Linked DNA regions of Homo sapiens: region 1 is linked to region 2. A link means that fine-mapping ties the variant in region 2 to the expression of a gene that starts in the linked region. Tissue or cell type: pancreas. Region 2 holds a variant in brackets; the other region holds the start of a gene. All regions are shown on one strand. Distances are from middle to middle.

Region 1 (11,144 bases), 170 kb before region 2:
CTGAACAAAAATTTAAAATACAACACAGTAAAATTAATGGGACACAGCTAAAGCAATGCCAAGAGAGAAATTTATATCACTAAATGCCTATGCTAGAAAAGAGAAAATTTTCTCTAATAATCTAAGCTTCCATCTCAGAAATATAGAAAAAGAAGATAAAAATATCCCAAAGCAAACACAAGGAAATAAATTAAAAAACAGAAATCCCTAAAATTGAAAACAAGAAAATCAACAAAGCAAAGAGCTGGTTCTTTTAAAAGATCAACAAATAGAATTAATAGACCTCCAGCAAGACTGACAAGAGAATAGACAAAAATTACCGATATCAAAAATGAAATGGATATCACCACTGACACAGCAGAATCAAGGGATAATAAGAAAATAATATAGACAACTCTAGACAAAATGGACCAATTCCTTAAAAAAAAAAATACAAACTACCAAAACTCACTGAATGCAAAATAGATACTTCCAATAGCTCTATATCTGTTAAGGAAACTGAATTTGTTATTTTAAAACTTCCAAAAAAGACATTTCCAGACCCAGATGATTTCACTGGGGAATCCTACAATTTGTTTAAAGAAAAATTAATTCAAATTCTGTAAATATTTTCCAGAAGATAAAGTAGAATAGGTTATATCTCAAATTGTTTTATGAAGCTGGTATTACCCTGATATCAAAACCAGGAAAAACAGTATAAAAAATTATAGACCCAAAGCCTTCATGAATATAAATGCAAAAGTTATTAACAAAATATTAGAAAACAAAATTCATCAATTAAAAAATTATACATGATGGCCAAATGGAGTCTATTTCAGGTATGCAAAGCTAGGTCAAGATCTGAAAATCAATTAATGTAATAGACCACATTAACTAGCTAAAGCAGAAAAATTACATGATCATATCAATTAATGCATTAATTAAATTCAAATGGAATTAATGCAGGAAAAAACTAATTCAAAATCCATTCACGATAAAAAATATCTCAGTAAAATAGAAATACAAGAGAACTCCCTCAACTCAAATCATCTACATACAAATCTACATACAAATCATCTACATACAACTCAAATCATCTACATACAATATACAGCTAACATTATACTTATTAGTGACAGACTTAATATTTTCCCCCTGAGACTGAGAACAAGACAATGATGTTCACTCTCATCACTTTTATTCAACATAGCCTTAAAAGTTTCAGTGAGTGCAATAAGGCAAGAAAATAAAATAATAGGCATACATATTAGAAAGGAAGAAATAATACCGTTTCTATTTGCAGGTGACATGATTGTCTTTGTAGAAAATCCAAGGAATCTACAATATACTCCTAGAACTAATGAGCAAGTCACCAAAATTGCAGAATACAAGATAAACATACAGAAATTTATTCTATTTTGGTATACCAGCCAGAACATATGTGCAGCAAGCAAAATGTGTACAGGACTCATATGCTAAAAACTACACGATGTTGATAACATAAATGAAAGAGGACCTACATAGATGAAGAGACACACTATGTCCATTGATTGGACTATTCAAATAGTAAAGATGTCCATTTTTCCCAAATTAGTATATGAATTTAATACAATCACTATCAAAATCCAAAAAGTTTTTTCTAGGTACAGACAAGATTATTATACAATTTATATGAAAAAGCATGAAACCAAGAATAGTTAAAACAATTTTGAAAAAAAATAAAGTGGAAGGAATCTATCTACCTGATTTTAAGATTTATATGATTATAGTCATCAAGACTGGTACTGGCAGGGGTATAAACAATGGAGAAGAATCCAGAATCCAGAAATAGATCCACACAAATATGCAACTAATTTTTTTTTTTACAAAGTTACAAGAACAATTCAATGGAGGAAGGACAGTCATAAAACAAGTGGTTCTAGTACAATTGAAAATCCAAATAAACACACAAGGAAACCTTGATCTTAACATTACAGTTTACACAAAATTTAACTCAAAATGGATCATAGACTTAAATGTAATTCATAAAATTATAAAATTTTTAGAGAAATAGGATAAATATTTAAGATTTAGAAGTATGCAAAGAGTGAAAAGGAAAATTGATTCAATATTGCTTTAAAAATTGATGTAAATAAACCTTTTGATCTGTGTAATACCCTGTGAAGGGGATAAAAAGATAAGTTATGGATTGAAAGAAAACATTTCCCAACCACATATCCGACAAAGGTATAGTATATAAAGAACACTCAAAACTAAAAAAAAAACAAACAAAAATTAATTAAAACATAAGCAAAAGACATTAAGAAATATTTCACCAAACAAAATATATAACTGAGAAATAAGCACATAAAAAGATACTCAACATCATTATCCATTAGGAAAATGCAAATTAAAACCAAAATGAGATATTGCTATACACCTATTGAAATAACTAAAGAGTAGTGACAACACCAAATGCTGGTGAGGATGCGGAGAAACTAGGGCCCTCACACATTTCTGGTAAGAAAGTAAAATGGTATAGTCACTCTGGAAGAATATCGCAGTTTCTTAAAATACTAAACGTGCAAATACATCTAGGATTAAAATACTAAACAAGCATTTATTAAAATACTAAACATACCATACAATCCAGGAATTAAACTTCTGTCTGTGCATTTATTCTAGAAAAATACTTCTATTCACACAAAACCTGTGCACAAATGTTTATAGCAACTTTATAACAGAGCTGGAAATAACTCAGATGTCCTTCAAAGGTGAATGGTTAAACAATCTGTAGTTTGAGTCCCAGATACTTCCTAGTTATGTGAAAGCACAGTTATTTTATTCCTTTTCCTACATTTTCTCTCTCGTAGAATAAGAATAATTGCGTCAATCTATTAAAGTTTTTGAGGGAATTAAATGAGTCAAAGTATGTAGAGCACTTAACATGGTGCTGGCACAAAGTACTCAGTAAAAATTAGCACCAATAGGGAGTGTAAATTAGTTCAACCATTGTAGAAGACAGTGCGGAGATTCTTCAAGGATCTAGAACCATAAATACAATTTGACCCAGCAATCCCATTACTGGGTATATACCCTATAAGTCATTCTACTATAAAGACACATGCACAGGTATGTTTATTACAGCACTGTTCACAATAGCAAAGACTTGGAACCAACCTAAATGCCCATCAATGATAGACTGGATAAAGAAAATGTAGCACATACACACCATGGAATACTATGCAGCCATAAAAAAGGATGAGTTCATGTCCTTTGCAGGGACATGGATGAAGCTGGAAGCCATCATTTTTAGCAAACTAACACAGGAACAGAAAACCAAACACCACATGTTCTCATAAGTGGGAGTTGAACAATGAGAACACATGGACACAGGGAAGAAACATCACACACTGGGGCCTGTCAGGGGTTGGGGGGCTAGGGGAAGGGATAGCATTAGGAGAAATGCCAAATGTAGGTGACGGGTTGATGGGTGCAGCAAACCACCATGGCACGTGTATACCTATGTAACCTGCATGTTCTGCATGTGTATCCCAGAACTTTAAAGTATAATAAAAAATAAAAATTACCACTAATAACACTTGCACAGCTTGTAGAAGATAGTCTTAAGATTATGAAATCCATCCTGGTTGTGTGGTACTGGTGTCGGGGATGGGAGCAAAAGCCTCTGTCTACCATTGCTTCTTTAATTGACTAGTTTGGGCAGCAAGAATACAAAAGCTAGACATGACACACTGTGTAAAAATCAGGAATGAAAAGCATGATGTGGTCAATAAGAAATGCAAATACATACAAAAATGCTAAATTGCCTTAGTGTAGAAAGATTGCCTGCTGGAAATAGGAACTATAAGTAAAACTCTGTGAGTGTGATTTTTAAAATATGATTTATTACAAAATTCCAGCAGCCAAACAAAAGAAAGATAGTCCCTCTAATAAAAACTGAACATAGCATTTCTTATCTATTATTTGTTTATTAGGGTTCTAATTAGCCAGACAGTGTCACTTAATTTCAACACATTTTATAAATAATTTGCCATATGTCTGTTAGTATTTACGATTTCCAGGCAGTTTGGAAAATGAACATATTTGAGGACTCTCTATTCATTGGTTAGCATGAAAACCCAAGGGATGCTACAGACACATTTGTTCCTAAATTGCATGTGCCTCTCTCTTTACCAGGAAAGTGATAATGGGAAAGAGCTGGTCTTAGGAGAAAGACCAGTGATGGAAAATATACTAGTCTTAGGAGAAAGACAATGTGGTTTGAGGTCCCATGTTCACCACCAAATTCCTGTTTGGCTTTGAGCAATTGTATTCACTTCTCTGAGCTTCAGCATTCTCCTCCATGGCACAAGGGGGCTTCACTAAATAACCTCCAGTTACCCACTAGTGCAATATTCTGCAATTTAACCGTATCTGTGATTCTAGACCACACTCGTCCCTAGAAGCCAGAGCACTCTGAGTGAAGGGAAGTAAAGGAACAGGGACTTAAGCATTCTTCTCTTTAGCAGATGGAGAATTTTGAAATGCCAACTCGCTCTTTTAAAAATTCTAGACTGTCTAAAGCATAGGCAAATTTCATGTTCTTAAAAATTCCTAGCTTGTGTCTTACACACACAGCGATGCAGATTTTAGATGGTGTGGGTGTTTCTTCTCTTGTAAAATGTTTCCTATGTCCATGTTTCTTCTTGGTATTCTGATAAGATCTGTAGGTACATACAAAGTTCACAATTACTCTACCAACCAACCAAAATCTTATGTAAAGATTTTCATGAAGTTAGTATGTTCACTTCTTTCCAACACCTTTTATTCCTAAGTTTGGTAATATTTCTTTTTTTTACTACCCTTAAAATCAACTTACTGCTCATTCTACCTTCTCTTTTATTTATGGACCCATCAATAATTATCCATCAATACAGCAACTTGCTCATGACATTTATGCCAATTAGTTGAGTTGTAGGTAACTTAATAAAAGGATTATACATGAAAATCTCATTTTAGGGTATGAATCGAAGCTATCAATAAGCCCATTACTAATTCTGATTTTCTGTAAGTTTGCACCATTCACATAATCTGCCACTATAATATATTGGTCCCACTTTCCTTATTTTGTATAATCAAACAGTAATCAATAAAAACTATGACTACTGCAAAATGAGACTTCTGAAGCTTTGAGGGCAAATTCATCATCAGCATGCATATAAAAGTCACTGTAGAGAGTCTTTTCTTTCTTAAGTGCCCTTGAAACCCAGCAGCTGAATCATATTTCAGGCCCCCCAAAGAGAACTGCAAGGTTATAATTGTCTCACACTTAATTACATGCATTACCAAAGGTAGATGGACAAAGTCATTTTGTACCATGCGTAGAGAATAAAAATCACCATGAATTTTGATATTGCTGGCTCATTGATTCACAGGAAGTAGAAATTTATGCAAGAACCATGTCTAACAATGTAAATGTTCAGCCAAGTCGAAGAACACTGCCTTCACTGTTCTGGGACTCGGCCTCACATTCACAGACTTGCTATTCTTCTCTTTCACTCTTGGGCCTAGCGAGGCAGCTTATTTTTCCTTTTTCTTTCATTGGTCACAGTTATTTCTTTTCAGTGTGTCATCTTCTCTAAGTTTCTGAGGGAGTGTTAGCTTGAGGCCTTGCCTTGACATAATCAGATATAATCAGAAAAATGAAAAATTCCATAGGAAAGAGAACTATTTTAGCCAAGGTGTGCGAGAGAAATACCGCCACTTTCAAGCACTGTTTTCTTCTACTGGAGTCTGCTCAATAGGGACGTCAGCTTTGCTGGGGTAAGTAAAAGCATCCTGGCCTTAACCTATATAATGGGGGAGTAATTGCCTCTTAGAATCATCAAGTCTAAGTTCTGAATTAGGCCCAGGATATGACTACTTTTCTTTACACTGCATTTGAAATTTCATTTGGCTTTCTGGGTGCGAGATCCACATTTCTTTTCTAACAGAATGTTTTATTTTTCGTCAATTGATTTCATTATGATAAGCTGATGGCAAATGCTACTTCCTCACTCAACAGGGCTTGCAGTCTGAATGTGCCTGAATACATTTTATGATAAATAATATATCCTGCTATCCTGCATTCATCCAGTGCAGCCTGAGGAAGCAGATGGAGTTACAGCCTTCTTCTCAAAGCAGAAAGAAACTATAGCTTTGAGGAAGAGAATGAGATCATTACATGGCTTCCCAATTTCATCTTGATAAACTCTGAAGCTGCCATATTGCAGTAGTTTTCAACTATAGGTGGGAAGCTTGACTTTCCTTTGAGTTCAAAGGAGAAAACTGTTGCTTAAAGAAAAATGTGTTTTTTCCCTAAGTATGAGTTACTCCTTCCAGAAAAAAAATAAAAAAGCCCCATGCATGCAGGTCTGTGATGAATACATTTAGGACAGTCCTGTGGCCTGCTATTAAGGCTGGAGTGACACTATCCCTAACCCTAAGGTGAAAAGTAATGTTAAAAATAAAAATTATACTGAGCTGCTAGTTATTTTGCCTACAGGAGTGCATGCCTGTGTCTGGTGGAACTTGGTTTTTCTCTGAATTTGCCAGGCAATTTTCTCTGAATTTGCCAGGTAGGCAGAGGAGAATTTGAAAACTGTAGAGAGGAGCTTGACCTCCCAAAGCCAATCTGGCACTCTGCTACTTCCTTCTTCCACAGTTTCTTCTCTGTTTCCAGATCTTGCAAATGTACAGTCAAGACTGCTTGGAGTATTATTCCATTAACAGACATACAGTTACATTAAGCCATTAATCAGGCAGATCACAGATGTTGTTTTCTGTCTAGATGTTACTATAATTACTCTTAATAACACCCACTGAGTTTGTCATTTCATCCATTGATGACTTTTTAAAAAATTCTTGGAAAATTCATTTCTTACAGCCTAATTATATGGATTTAAGGGTTCAGGATCTCTCCTCAGGTTTTCATCATGTATTTTTTAAAGAGTATAGCAGTATAACATCACATATGGGTGGATTAATAGGCTCTTGAGAAACTGAAGGTTGAAACCCACATGCTGACTTTTTACAGTTAAATCATACTCCTCTCGTGCTAAACGATGAGCCTTATCTTTTGAAGCATGTGATACTGATAAGTCCAGTGAAGGAGGCTGCCTTTCAAAGGAACGGAGCTCTGAGGAATGGAATGGAACTTAGTCTAGCTGCCTAGTTTACAGATGATAAAACTAGGACCTAGAGAAATGAAGTCTGAATTACTGAGAGAAAAGGACACCAGAGTCCAAGGCTCAGAGCTCTCAATCCAGTGTTGCTTCTTCTTGTTTATTTTGTTTTGTTTTGAGATGGAGTCTTGCTCTGTCACCCAGGCTGGCGTGCAGTGGCGCAATCTCAGCTCAATGCAACCTCTGCCTCCTGGATTCAAGCAATTCTCCCATCTCAGCCTCCCAAGTAGCTAGGATTACAGGCATGCACCACCATGCCTGGCTAATTTTTGTTTTGTTTTTTGTTTTTTGTTTTTTAGTAGAGACGGAGTTTCACCATGTTGGCCAGGCTGGTCTCGAACTCCTGACCTCAGGTGATCCGCCCACAGCCTCCCAAAGTGCTGGGATTACAAGCGTAAGCACCGCACCTGGCCCAGTGTTGCTTCTACTACCACTTTCATTCTTCAAACAGCTTCTGCCATGTCAGAAGGGAATGAAAATTTCTTTTGTGACTCAAAAGTAAACTAAAACTCGTTGGATTCCTGAGACTGATTCTACCCATTTACCCACTCTCCTTAAAGTAAAACTTAGCCAGGCATTCTTAAATTTTGCTTTGAACCTAGGGAGTTCTAGCTTTTCTGCTGATTAAATGTCACTGATTTCTCATTTTCTGGTGACATTGTTTTACAATTCTTTTAACTACAAAGTTTAAGTTTCTGGAGCCTTTTCTTCTTTTCATTTTTTATAAAATACCCTTTTATTAAGAGATGAAGTTGGGTAGTCAGAATAGGAGTGGGTATTGTTTAGTAGAAAAAAAACGGGCTTTGGAATAAAACTTGCATATGAATTACAGTTCTGCTTCCTATAATTGTGTAACCTTGGCAAGTTACTGCGCCTGTCAAATGCTCACATTAAAAGAGTGTGTGTGTGTGTGTGTGTGTGTAATTGCCAGTACAATTCAATAATTGGCCCACAGAAGGCACTTAATAATTGCTAGTTACTACTAAGAGAACCAGATGAGAAAGAATATTAATGGATATGGCATTTTTTGTTTATTAAGTACTGTCTTAAACGTCTGGAGAAAAGAAGGAGAATCTCATTTTCTGCTTTCGTTATTAGTGATCACTGGCTGCTGTTGCCAATGCAGGGAGCCTTGCAGATAGTTAGCAGCCTGAAAACAACTTGTATTATTTGAGAGGAGGTACTTTTGTCTCTTAGATAAAGTTTTTGCAGGTCGCTCTGGTATGGTGCAGTATCAATCTGAACTCATTAAGTTGAAGAAGTGACACAGGAACACAAGAATACATTGTTTCTTTGCCTCATCTGCTTAATTAAAAATTCCAGATCCCTCCACTCACAAGCAAGATTGATGGTGAAATCTTCACACACATGCTACCGTATGTTCTCTACCTCCTCCTCCCCAAGTACAACCTAGAGCAGTGGTTCCCAAATATGCTTCCTGGGCCGGCTGTATCAGAATTACTCGGGAACTATTAGAAGGGCAAAACCTCAGGCCCTGCCGCAGACATGCTGAGTCAGAAACTCGGGATCACTCAGAAATCTGTTTTAAATAGGCCTTCAGGTGATTCTGATGGAGTTCCAGAACCATGACCTGGAGAACATGCCCAGTTACTATATGTACTGCAGTGTTTCTCAAAGTGAAGAACAGGTACCATGATAGAACCAAAAATGATCTTAGGTAGGACAAAGATGACTTTAGGTGATACTCACGTATTATATCAAATAGCTAGATCACATAGTAAAAGTTTTCCCTCTCAACTCTCTTTCCATCATTAAGTCTCATTTTGGTATGACTAGACCTTTAATACCTCTCTACCCATTGCTAATCTCCCATTTCAACAAAGAGAGCTGGATGCAATTTTGATGTCTTTAGGTAGCAGCAGGGTCCAGCTAAAACTCAGCAATAGTTTTCTTCTCTTTATGGCATGCTATTTAAATGGTGATAAACTTTTCCTTTATAAATGTTTACATTAATTAATCAAAAAAGTTAAAATACAGTTGGCACGTGGATTAGCAAAATTATGTCAGTGATATGGCAGTGAATGTATTTAGAGAAATGCTGGTATGCTAGAAAGAACCTAGTTACATCAGTGCTTTAATTTCATTTGTGCCATTTATTAGCTGTGCTATTTTCTTAGCTGTGCTACTTTTGTAAGCCTCAATTTTCTCATCTATCAAATGGGAGTGATACCAACATCATAGAAATGGTATAAGAACTTATGAATGGAATATGCCTCCTGTAACCCTCAGAACATAGTAGGAACTTGCTACATCCTTATTCTCTCAAATCTCACTTTGAAGTCAGGTTTCTGTGTGGCCTTCTCAATAGCATTTCTGTTGGGGCTTCAGATTCTTCATTTGTAATGTGACAGTAAAGACTTGAAGATCTGAAAGGTTCCTTCCAGCTCTTAACTAATATGTATTTACACATGTGTATTGTATGTGTGTATGTTTACATATAGTGTAAATTCTGCATATAAGTATGACTTAGGCATAAATAGTTATTTTCCCCAGGCATAAACCTGGAGTGTGCAGGGATAATATTGAAAATAGATGGCTGTGTTGGAAAAATAAAAAATCAAATTGTGAGAGATGTGGGCGCTGATATACATATCAGAGCTCAAAGGTAATTTCATTGTATTTTACCATCATCTGTCAAACTTAAAGCAATACCGACACTAGAAAATAGATTTTTGCAGAGGTTTCTGAGGACAATGGTTTCCATGAGCTGGTGTAAATATATTCAGAGAGACTTGTTCCTACTTAATAACCCGCGTTTTTCCTTCTGAATTGCTGATGCATTCATTTATAGCATTTGAAAGGCAGTTTGTCCTTTGCTGTCAAGTGAACTTGACACAATAATAAGAAATTCTGAAAAATTCAATCAAATCTTGTTGCTTCTCAAAGGAATTTCTCGACTACTTATTCTGTTTAAGGAGAAAAAGAGAAGACAGTGTTTCTTTGGTCTTGTATAAAACACTAACCAAGTTTAACAGCACAGGTTCTTGTTAGCAGGTGCCACATGGAGTTTTCCCTCTCAGTAATCCAGGGGACAGTTCTAACTGAGGTTTGGGGGTTCTTTGGGAAGTAGCAGCAATACATAAGGGGTCACCGCAAGGCTGTACTGTTATAAAATCAGAAGCTGTTATCAGCTTATTTATTGCTTACAATATGCTTGTGAATCTGGAGACCTAAAAACAGAGAAATGGCGAAACTTGCTTCTCTTCCTTAGACGATAAAATAGCTTGCATTGTCTTTTACATAACTGACTATTATAGAATCCCAGAAGCTAGATACACTCAAATATTGGCAATTCTGATGAAATGCCCCAGGAACTATTAGACTTGATTTAACAGGCACTGAACTGAAAATTAGCATGTAAGACAGAGAGAATGTGCTTGCAATCATGCAGACAACAGTTCAAATTACTCTCTTTGAGCTCCAGTCTCCTTATCTATAAACTGAGGATAAAATGTTTCTACCTCACAAGATTGTCCTGAGAATTAATCGAAGAGGTAATATTGGAAGTAGCCAGAACATCTAACATTAACTGAGTACTTACTATCTGCCAGTTGCTATTTCAAGGGCTTCAACCGCATAGGATCATTTAAGCCTCAATAAATCTCTGAGATAGTTACTATTATTAGCTCCATGTTGTGGATGTAGGAACTTATACCAGAGAAAATGTAATTAACTTGCCAGCCACAATGTGGCAGGAAGAGACAGAGCCAACATGGGAACCCAAAAAGTCTGGCTGCAGATGCTCCTTCTTTAAGGCTTAAAAACACTTGACATTGTTATCAGCATTTCATATGAGTTGAACCATGTGAAATTATAAATACTTGACCATTTTTGACATAAAAATAGCAATTTTTTGTGGTGGTACCTACTAAGCGCTGGATATGTATTAGTAGTAGCTACAGTTGCTACTACTGCTAATAGCAGCAATCATAATATTGA
Region 2 (11,144 bases):
TTGTTTAAATTCTTTGTAGATTCTGGATATTAGCCCTTTGTCAGATGCATAGATTGCAAAAATTTTCTCCCATTCTGTAGGTTTCCTGTTCACCCTGATGATAGTTTCTTTTGCTGTGCAGAAGCTCTTTAGTTTAATTAGATCCCATTTGTCAATTTTGGCTTTTGTTGCCATTGCTTTTGGTGTTTTAGTCATGAAGTCTTTGCCCATGCCTATGTCCTGAATGGTTTTGCCTAGGTTTTCTTCTAGGGTTTTTATGGTTTTGGGTCTTACCTTTAAATCTTTAATCCATCTTGAGTTAATTTTTGTATAATGTGTAAGGAAGGTGTCCAGTTTCAGTTTCTGCATATGGCTAGTCAGCTTTCCCAGCACCATTTATTAAATAAGGAATCCTTTCCCCATTGCTCGTTTTTGTCAGGTTTGTCAAAGATCAGATGGTTGTAGATGTGTGGCATTATTTCTGAGTCCTCTGTTCTGTTCCATTGGTCTATATCTCTGTTTTGGTACCAGTATCATGCTGTTTTGGTTACTGTAGCCTTGTAGTATAGTTTGAAGTCAGGTAGCATGATGCCTCCAGCTTTGCTTTTTTTGCTTAGGATTGCCTTGGCTATATGGGCTCTTTTTTGGTTACATATGAAATTTAAAGTAGTTTTTTCAAATTCTGTGAAGAAAGTCAATGGTAGCTTGATGGGTATAGCATTGAATCTATAAATTACTTTGGGCAGTATGGCCATTTTCACGATATTGATTTTTCCTATCCATGATCATGGAATGTTTTTCCATTTGTGTGACCAGTGGTTTGTAGTTCTCTTTGAAGTGGTCCCTCACATCCCTTGTAAGTTGTATTCCTAGGTATTTTATTCTCTTTGTAGCATTTGTGAAGGGGAGTTCACTCATGATTTGGCTCTCTGTTTGTCTATTATTGCTATGTAGGAATGCTTGTGATTTTTGCACATTGATTTTGTATCCTGAGATTTTGCTGAAGTTGCTTATCAGCTTAGGGAGATTTGGGGCTGAGAATATGGGGTTTTCTAAATATACAATCATGTCATCTGCAAACATAGACCATTTGACTCTCTCTCTTCCTATTCGAATACCTTTATTTCTTTCTCTTGCCTGATTGCCCTGGACAGAATTTCCAACACTATGTTGAACAGGAGTGGTAAGAGAGGGCATCCTTGTCTTGTGCTGGTTTCCAAAGGGAATGCTTCCAGCTTTTTCCATTCAGTATGATATTGGTTGTGGGTTTGTAATAAATGGCTCTTATTATTTCGAGATACTTTCCATCAATACCTAGTTTATTGAGAGTTTTTAGCATGAAGGGTGTTGAATTTTATCAAAGGCCTTTTCTGCATCTATTGAGGTAATCATATGGTTTTTGTCATGGTGTCTGTTTATGTGATGAATTACGTTTATTGATTTGTGTATGTTGAACCAGCCTTGCATCCCAGGGATGAAGCTGACTCGATGGTGGTGGACAAGCTTTTTGATGTGCTGTAAAGCAGCATTTCTTTGCCACCTGGGCAGACCATCTGCTTAATCAAGTACTTGGTTTCAGAAACCACCAAATGGAGTGGAGAAAAAGAAAAGGGATCCCCTATCCCCAACTCCAGCCATCTAGATTAAGAAAAGCCAGCTGACTGGACAGTAGCACAGCCCAGTCACCTCATGGACAAATTTCCTAGGAAAGAACCTCTCCCATCTATTCTACTTATCACTCTCCTTTGAGGTTCCGGCCACAGGTGAGTTTCTGGAAAATGTCATCAGAATCAGAAAATGTTAGCGCCAAAGAAAACCTAAAGAATAGGTACCTTTTCCTTTGTTTTAAGATGTGTCCCAATATATTTTTCTGTACTATCCAATTTGTTCCTCACAAAAATCTTGTGGAATAAGTATAGAAAGAATAGTGTTCCTGATTTCACAGTGAGGAAGCTGGAGATCAGTTGAAGGTGAAGGAACAGCTCCCCACTAGGACTGAACCAGAGCTAGTCTTCTGACCTGCAGGGTCATAGCCCAGCAAGCCACACTTTAGCTATCCCTGACAGCCCCAATTAGGCCAAAAGCACGTCCCACCCACTTCAATGCTCCCATGGCACGTATTCCAGTGTTAGGAGCATGTTATTTATGTGATTATTTGTTTAGTGTGTCACCCTAGAACATAGGGATTCTAACCTCAGATACTCAATCTTAAACAAAATCCTTATGACTCTAATGTCAGAAATCCTATCTTTAGGAACAACAGGGAAGCAAATGGTCAGGATCTAGTGACCTTTAGTTACAAGGAAGTAGGTCAAAGTGTGGGTTAAGACTACTTTCAGTGTCTACCCTGCATGGATGGGGGAGAAATGAACAGGCCAACATGCTGCACGTTTCTCCTAAACATAGCTCCTCCTGTGTCTGTTTTCAGATCTTCGCCTGCTGCTGGAAATGGCCCTCTCAGTGGACTCATCGTGGCATCGGTGGCAGTGGAGAGTCAGAGATGGCTTCCCCCATTGTCCATCGGAAACCACACCGCTGCTCTCTCCAGAGAAAGGGAGACAGAGCTACAACTTGACACAGCAGCGGGTCGTGTTCCCCAACAACAGCATATTCCATCAAGATTGGGAAGAGGTCTCCAGGAGATACCCTGGCAACAGAACCTGCACAACCAAATACACCCTCTTCACCTTCCTGCCCCGGAATCTCTTTGAGCAATTTCATAGGTAGAGATCCACTTGTCTGAACAATACTCTTTTTAGAGAAAGAGTCTCATTCTGTTCCCCAGGCTGGAGTATAGTCGTGCAATCTCGGCTCACTGCAACCTTCACCTCCTGGGTTCAAGGGAATCTCCCACCTCAGCCTCCCAAATAGCTGGGACCACAGGCGTGCACCACCATGCCCGGCAAATTTTTGTACTTTTATGTAGATATGGGGTTTTGCCACGTTGCCCAAGCTGGTCTCTAACTCCTGGGCTCCAGTGATCCGCCTGCCTCAACCTCCCAAAGAGATGGGATTACAGGAGTGAGCCACCACACCCGGCCACCAATACATATTTTAAACAAGTATTTACCACTTAGATAAACTCAGAGATGCTACCCTCTGGGGGCCACCTTTCCTTTAATATCCAAATGCATTTGTCTTAAGAAGTTTTTTCATTCATTCTTTCATTCAACAAATATTTGTCAGGTTCTATGCTGTCTCAGGCCATAAGCTGGGAGCTAGAGATACATAAAAAAAATGGAGAGGCAGAGAGATACTGTCCTTATTGAATATATTGTCTAGTAAAAGAGACAGACATTAGTTTTTTAATTATATAAATTGATATAAAGTTGTAACTACAATAGATACTTCTAAGGAGAGGTATATGGTGCTATTATAGTGAATAATAAGGAAATCTTGGCCTAGTTAAGAAAGTCAGGGAATTGAAGTACAACATGAAAGAGAGACTGCATTACCTGAGTGAAAAGGGATGGACAGAAGTCAGCAGAATGTTCCTGCAGACAGACCTGTACATGCAAAGGCACTGTGGCAAGAGAGAGCAAGATGCACGTGGAAAACTTGAAAACATCAGCAACTCTTTTGAGATAATGTATGAGATCATTTTAAATTAAAAGTTAAAATATGTGCTTATATATCACCCTCAATATTGTAATTATTATTATAAGTGACCATTTACTGAGCAACTGCTATGCTCCAGAGCCCTCTGCTGTATATCATGCAAATATTATAAATCATGTAATATTTATGGGACCCCTTTAAAGTCCATAATACTATCCCCATTTTGTGCAAGAGGAAATAAGCTCAAAAAAATCACACAACGAGTAAATAACAGGAACAGAATTTAAATCTAGATGGTTTTCCATTCCTGAGAATAATCATCTCCAGTCTCATCCATAAGCATGACAAAACAAACTTTGGGGACTTAGGGGGAAAGGGTGAGAAGGGGAGAGGAATAAAAGACTACAAATTGGGTGCAGAGTATACTGCTCGGGTGATGGATGCACCAAAATCTCACAAATCACCACTAAAGAACTTACTCATGTAACCAAACACCACCTGTTCCCCAATAATCTATGGAAATAATAAATACATCTAGATGGGTTTGGCTTCAAATCCATTACCATAATGTTTGAGGTGATACTGAAAGAGAAGGTTTAATTGATCAAGGCCAAACAGTAGGGAAGAAATGGGGGAGAAAGTACATTTTTCTTCTCCATAGTGTTTATTCACACTTCGCTTGCCCCTCCAGATGGGCTAACCTCTATTTCCTGTTCCTGGTGATTTTGAACTGGATGCCCTCCATGGAAGTCTTCCACAGAGAAATCACCATGTTACCATTGGCCATTGTCCTGTTCGTCATCATGATCAAGGATGGCATGGAGGACTTCAAGAGACACCGCTTTGATAAAGCAATAAACTGCTCCAACATTCGAATTTATGAAAGGTAAGAAAAACCATCCCTGTGTTCTCTCTTGCAAATGGGTTAGGCAAACTCATCAGCATAGCCTCAGGATGAGTCTCTTTTCTTCGATTTTATTTTCCTAAATTATTTAATTCACTGATTCTCAAGGGGGGGTGATTTCGACCCCTAGTGGGCATTTAGTAATGTCTGAAGACATTTTTGGTTGTCATACTGGGAGTAGGGGGTACTACTGACATCTAGTGGGTAAAATCCGGGGGTTCTGCTAAATAGCCTACGATACACAGGACACCACCGGGGAACAATTATTAACCAGTCAAAATGTCAATAGTGCTGAGGCTGAGAAAACTTGTTTAAGTTGTATAAGCACTCATATTATTAAGCACACAGATGCAGTATTATTAAAGGTGAGTTGAAAGCTTAAGAATTAAACTCTAGGATGGCTGGATTATCTTGGGAGACTAAGTTCAGGAGAAACTCTTTGGAGGATGTCAGGCAGTGTCTCCCAAACCAAGAAAATGTCTGCCATTTTAAAGCCTCAGTTGCTTGGGTTGAAAATTCTTGCTTTTAGAACCAGGTAGGTTTTAGGACCCAGAGTTGGTACACCTGTTCTTGG[C/A]TGCCCAGGGTGGAAAAGGAAGACACCTGTAGGTGACGTCTACATTCCAACAGGTGGAGTCTCAAACAAGTAGAAGGAAGTGGCCTGGTGGATACACACCTGTTCTCTGCAGGCTCTTTCCTTGTCATGTTTCTCCCCTGGGGTTTGCAGCCTGGCTTTTCATTTTTAGTATCCTTCTGAAAGAAGAGAGAAAAATTTTCAGCAAAGAAGGCAAGTAAAAGATGAAAATTAAATTATGAGAATTAAAAAGACAACATTGAGCAGAGATGAAAAAGGAAGGGAGGAAAAGGTGGAAAAGAAAAGAAGACAAGAAGCGAGTAGTGGTCTCTAACTTGCTCTTTGAAGGATGGTCTCACAAAGAGAACCCCAACAGACATCATCGTGGGAATCAAATCAAGACCAGCAAGTACACCGTGTTGTCCTTCGTCCCCAAAAACATTTTTGAGCAGCTACACCGGTTTGCCAATCTCTATTTTGTGGGCATTGCGGTTCTGAATTTTATCCCTGTGGTCAATGCTTTCCAGCCTGAGGTGAGCATGATACCAATCTGTGTTATCCTGGCAGTCACTGCCATCAAGGACGCTTGGGAAGACCTCCGGAGGTACAAATCGGATAAAGTCATCAATAACCGAGAGTGCCTCATCTACAGCAGGTAAAGCAAAAAACTCTGGGGAAGTCTTGGGCCCAGCCTGATCTTTTTGTGGCTGCTATCACTGCAGTTACTGTTTGTAGAAGGGATGGAGTAGGGAGATATCATTATTTTATTTCAGGGAAGCTGTTCAGTTCTCTACAGTGAGCTTTATAGTCTACAATCCAGAAAAAAGGAGGATTGAGTCAGTCTTTTAAAATTAGGAGGTCTTTATCATGTAGCATTTTCTTCACTATTTCAAATGTGTCTAACATTTAACAGTTTTGCATATATTCTCATCTCCTCTTAACCCAGTGTGGCCATGAGCACATTTAAGGCTGGTTGAGGACACTGGGAGGGAAGAGGCATCACTGTATTTGGGGGAGCAATGGAGTATTGTGTTAGGAGAAGCACAACAGGAGACACACTGCCTGAGTTGAACAGCCTCCAGTACTTACTAACTGCCTGACTTTAGACAAGCAATATAACCTCTGAAATTCATTTTGTAATTCCTAAAATTTGAACAATTCCTGAGGTGGTTGTGAGAGTTGCAGGAGATAATTCTTAGAAAATACTTAGCACAGTGTATGACATACAACAAATGCTCAGTAAATGCAAGCTGAAATTGCATTATTTTTAGAATGTCAAACCCAACGTTTCCTTCATCACTAACTCTGTTTTTGGGAGTTCTCCCTGATGTTGTCTTAACCAAAGCAAAGACTGCACACCACCTGTCCTGAAGCTGAGAAACCTTGTTTTAACTTGTGTAAGTGCTCATATTATTAAGCACAGAGATGCAATATTTTTTAGGGTGAGTTGAAATCTGAAGAATTAAACTCTAGGATGACTGGACTATCTGATGTCATTAGACATTTATTTAATGTCATTTTATACATGTCATTGTTCTACAAAGGTTTCATTGAGCAAATGACTAAACTAGGTTGTCAGGATAGGACATGCTCTCACTTGGCAAGGAAAGAAGACAGAGTTAGAGTGTGTCTCAACTTTGTGATAACCCACATAGTCCTAAAAGAAGCAAGGGAGTTGAGTCTGGGCTCACAGAGAGACTAGAGGGACAAAGCACCTTCAGAGCTAGCAGTTGGCAGCCTAAGATGATGGAGTCTCTAGCAGGTAAGAGCTTGACTTCTTGCTGAAGAAGGAAAACATCCATGTCTCACAAGCAGCACCCTAGGCCATCTCATTCCTTTTGACTCTCCAGCCCAGTTCAGCAGACATTCCGCACTGGCTCTGGTCCTTGTTAGAATGAAAGAGGCTTGCTTCGAGGTATGTACTCCAGCCATTTAGGCACTGCTTACTTCTAAGGAGGGGTTCTCTTCTCCAGGGGAGTGAAAGGTGGCCAGCTTAGAGCTGGCTGCTGAAAGGATTTATGAGTCAAACTCCACTTGGAAAATTGTAGCCAGGGGAAACCTCCAAGATGAGTATCTAATACAATGACTTTAGATGGTATTTACCAATATCATCCAAGAACCCCTGCAAGAAACTCCATGTTCATCCCTCAGCAGCAAATGAGCTTCTTGTCTCTTTGCTTGGAGGGACACAGTTGCACGTTTAGAAAAATTAATCTGAAGGATAATTTTTTTTTCCAGCTAGATCCAATTGTCTTGAATGTTATGAGCACACTGGACAGCCAGAGTTAACATTTAGTCGTTCCTCGCCTTTGAATATGAAAATTATAAAGAGAGGATGAAATCACTGCTGGGGTGTGATGCCTTCCTTTGAAAAAGCGGTGTTTGAGAAAGCATTGTTTTTCTTTTTTTTCTTTTCTTCTTCTTCTTTTTTTTTTTTTTTTTTTTTTTTGGGGGACAGAGTCTTGGTCTGTCGCCCAGGCTGGAGTGCAGTGGCGCCATCACAGCTCACTGCAAGCTCCACCTCCCGGGTTCATGCCATTCTCCTGCCTCAGCCTCCCGAGTAGCTGGGACTACAGGTGCCCGCCATCACGCCTGGCTAATTTTTTGTATTTTTAGTAGAGACGGGGTTTCACCATGTTAGCCAGGATGGTCTCAATCTCCTGACTTCGTGATCCGCCCGCCTCGGCCTCCCAAAGTGCTGGGATTACAGGCGTGAGCCACCGCGCCCGGCCGAGAAAGCATCGTTTTTCTTTTGGCACCAATCCACCGTCACTTTTTGTTTTCCACCTTACTGTCTTGTTTTTTTTCCATGGAATATACACAGTGGCAAGCCAGGAAGCTGGTGCCTCAGGGAGGAATGCACGTGGGCTGCAGTGAGCCTGGTCCTGTTCTCCTCGCTCTGCCAGAATATCGCAGAATCATGGCCTGGTTCTTGGGAATAATCTCAGTGTGGATTAGACCACAGACTCATCTGTGCTGGGAGCTGGCAGGACCTAGGCCAGGCTGCTGTTGTTGTTTCCAAAATAGCTTCCAGGGAACATCGGAAAACCAAGATGATAACAATCTAGAAAAAAGAAACATTAGTCCACCAGCTCACTGGCAGGGAGGAGCATGGAGTTTTCATAGCAGTATTTCCCAAAGTGTATTCAGTGGAATAACAGTGACAAAGAAATAGTCTCCGAAAAAATACGTGCATGGCCAAATTATATATGCTGGCCCTCCTCCAATGGACCCATAGCCCATGAAGGACTAAGAAAAGACACAGCAAAGAAACCTGTTCATCTTTGATTAACTCAGTGTTGCTTTACATTTACTGGGCTTTGGAAATATTTTTTAATATCTAAGTTTGGGAATTTTTACTTTTTCAAGTATACAAAAATAATTGGCTACAGGGACCAGATAGGTAATTAAATGGACTGAATAGTTTATAAAAAGCAGTATTACTCATGGACTGATAAATGGCCAATGACAGTTGGCATCAGTGTTAGGAGGCAATAGGGAATGGTGGTGACTATGGCAAAGTGGGGAGGCCATGCATTTATCCTAGGAGGCAGAGCTGGTCACTTAGCTTCTGCTAATTGTTATTATGTAGAAGTACAGGCCTAGTGTTGTTGCCAGATTGTCTGAGCTTTATTAGGGCAGCTAAAAATTAATATTTTTATTTGAAATAACCTGACTTTTAACTGATTTTATATTATTTTGTAACTGATGTAATTTTTTCAAACACTTCAGACCTATTTTTTTGAAACCTAAAGTTCTATTTTGCTTATGAGCCCAAAAACTTGCAAACTTTGCTTCAAAATATTCTAGAAATCTGGAGTCTCTGCAAAAGAATAATAAGTTTCTTTTTTTGTTGATGCTTTTTTGAGGTGGGCAGTGGGGGCAGGGGTCTTGGTACGTTGCCCAGGCTGGTCTAGAACTTGGCTTGAGCTGTCCTCTTCAAACTCCCAAGTAGGTGGGATTGCAGGCATGCCATCACTTCTGGCCCTAGGTTCTTCTTTTGAAGTTCATCCTCAAGGGACAGAGAGAGGGTATGACCTTGAGGTAAGAATGCAGGCCTGGGAGGCAGAGGCCTGTAGTCTAGGCCCAGATCTCAGACTAACTATTAATAGCTTAGGAAAGTCATTTAAACATATAGACCTCAGTTTCCACTTTTGTGAAATTTGGGAGTCAGACTAGATCTTGTCCTGTGAGATGGACTGAGGAAGAACAGAACCCATAGCCAAATAAATTTACACATTAATAGAATAAAGGTTCTAGGATGACCCTCAGTAAGTAGCCTATCAGCTTTGTTTAACCCAGCTGTCAGTTGAGATGTTCTTTGCCACAAGTAGGAGAAACTTCCATTTTAACAGGTTTAAACAACGAAGAGACTTCCTTGGCTTAAGTCATTACAAGTGTCCTGAGGTAGGAGGGTGATCAGCATGGTTCAATCAGCGTCCTAGATCCAGCTCTCACCAATCCTTTTCATTCAGCCCTCCTCAGTGTCATCTTAACTCTCAGGGAGACTTCTCTCATGGCAACGAAATGGCTGCAGCAGCTCCAGCCCTCACATCTACATGTGATCATGTATGAAAAGAGAAAGAAAGACACTTCTGGTAGCCATCTTGGAAGGTCAAGGAAGCTTACTACTCCCTAGAGCCTCCTCACATCTCAGTGGCCTCACTTGTTCATCCCTAAACCAATCCCTAGGGGCAAGAGATGGGATTGTACTAACTAGGTTATACCTGAGCCACAGTCCCCACCCACAGAGCCCAGCATGAAGTCAGCTTCCCTGAAAGCCTATGGGCCATTCCAGGAAGATGTAAAAGCCAAAGTTTTTTTAAAAATAAGATAGTTTCCAGCAGAATGAGGAACAGATGTTGGAGAAGCCACCTCAATGTCCTCAACACTATCACTTTAAAATATTTTTGAGACTTGACTCTTTGTAAATTGCTTTCCACGTATTAGCAGGAATATACACATCTTGGGACATTCTATACTATATGTCCCTAAAGTTTTTCCACCTCTGAAGTGGATTGATTCTATGAAAGACCCCAACAGAGGAAGCTAAGACATGCTATTAAATAGATAAGTGTTAGTTATTATCTTAACTGATGGATGCTAAAAGACATATCCTTTTGCCATATCAAGGACACATGACAGATGTCAGGAAAAGAATACAAGATTTAAGAGGACAATTTTTTTTTTTCTGGGAAGCAACATAAGAAATTACATCTCATGCCCTAGCCCTATCCATTTTATTTATTTCACCTCAAATTTACACATTTGAGCAACTGATGCTTTTTTTTTTCATTTTTGTGCAATTGAATACTAGAGCCCTTGGAATTTTGCTCATGACCTAAGCCCATGCATCATCCACCCTAGACTTGTTTATACTGTGAGGAAATGTCTTTTTACAAACAGCAGAAGCCTTGTTGACAGAATTACAATCCCGTTAGAGCATTTTCTTTTAATATAGCAACCGTGTTTGTGGTCTAAAGGTGACCCATTAATCAGATTTATGGAATGACTTCGAGGAGAGATTAGCTTCAGAATTGTATTAGTTTAGCTTCTCCCAGGGCTCAGTTTAATGAATCTAGAAACCATACCAGCCACAGATTTGTATTTTTCCATCCAGCTTAGTAAATTTTTATTTGTATTCAGAAAACATGCAGTACAGAGCAGGGAATGGGAACTGAGGGAATCCAGGGTGGTTCCTTATTGTAATGAAACCTAAGCCCTCCACAGTTTCAGCAGCTGGTCACTCACTTATTCATCTATTCAGCAAATTTTAATTCAAGACTTAGTGTGTGCATTGCCATGGCAAACCTTATGTGCCCTCAAAGGACTCTCAGTCTAGGGGTCACGAGGAACTTACAAATAGCTACAATGTCCCACGTGCTTCGGTAGCCTACCTGCAAAGGGACACAGAAGTGCAGAGGATGTGGTGACCCACCCACCTGCAGAAACGTCAAGGCCAAGGGAAGCTTTCAGTAAAAGAAGTAAAATTTCAGGAGAGCCCTGAAGGAGGAGCAACATTTAGCCAGGCAGAGGGAACATATTTCAGCTCACAGCCTGTTCCTGTGTCAATGAAATGTTGTATGTGTGGCTTATGCTGGTATTAGAAAGACCAGGACCAAGAAATGATAG

Evidence for each region. PIP is the estimated chance that this variant, and not a neighbour inherited with it, causes the effect.
Region 1: ATP10B starts here. The variant in region 2 is fine-mapped to the expression of ATP10B in pancreas (GTEx, PIP above 0.99). The same link has a PIP of 0.9 or more in nasal epithelium.

The regions. Positions count from the first base shown.
Region 1 is chr5:160,846,581-160,857,724 of GRCh38, reverse strand. It overlaps ATP10B (ATPase phospholipid transporting 10B (putative)), which reads left to right and starts at 5,514. Exons shown (of 26, transcript NM_025153.3): 1 at 5,514-5,784.
Region 2 is chr5:160,679,358-160,690,501 of GRCh38, reverse strand. ATP10B (ATPase phospholipid transporting 10B (putative)) reads left to right here. Exons shown (of 26, transcript NM_025153.3): 4 at 1,559-1,742; 5 at 2,408-2,702; 6 at 4,229-4,423. The coding sequence starts at 2,428. Among named protein-coding and RNA genes, the nearest start is that of ATP10B, 170 kb to the left of the region's middle. The variant C/A (reference allele first, on the strand shown) is at 5,016.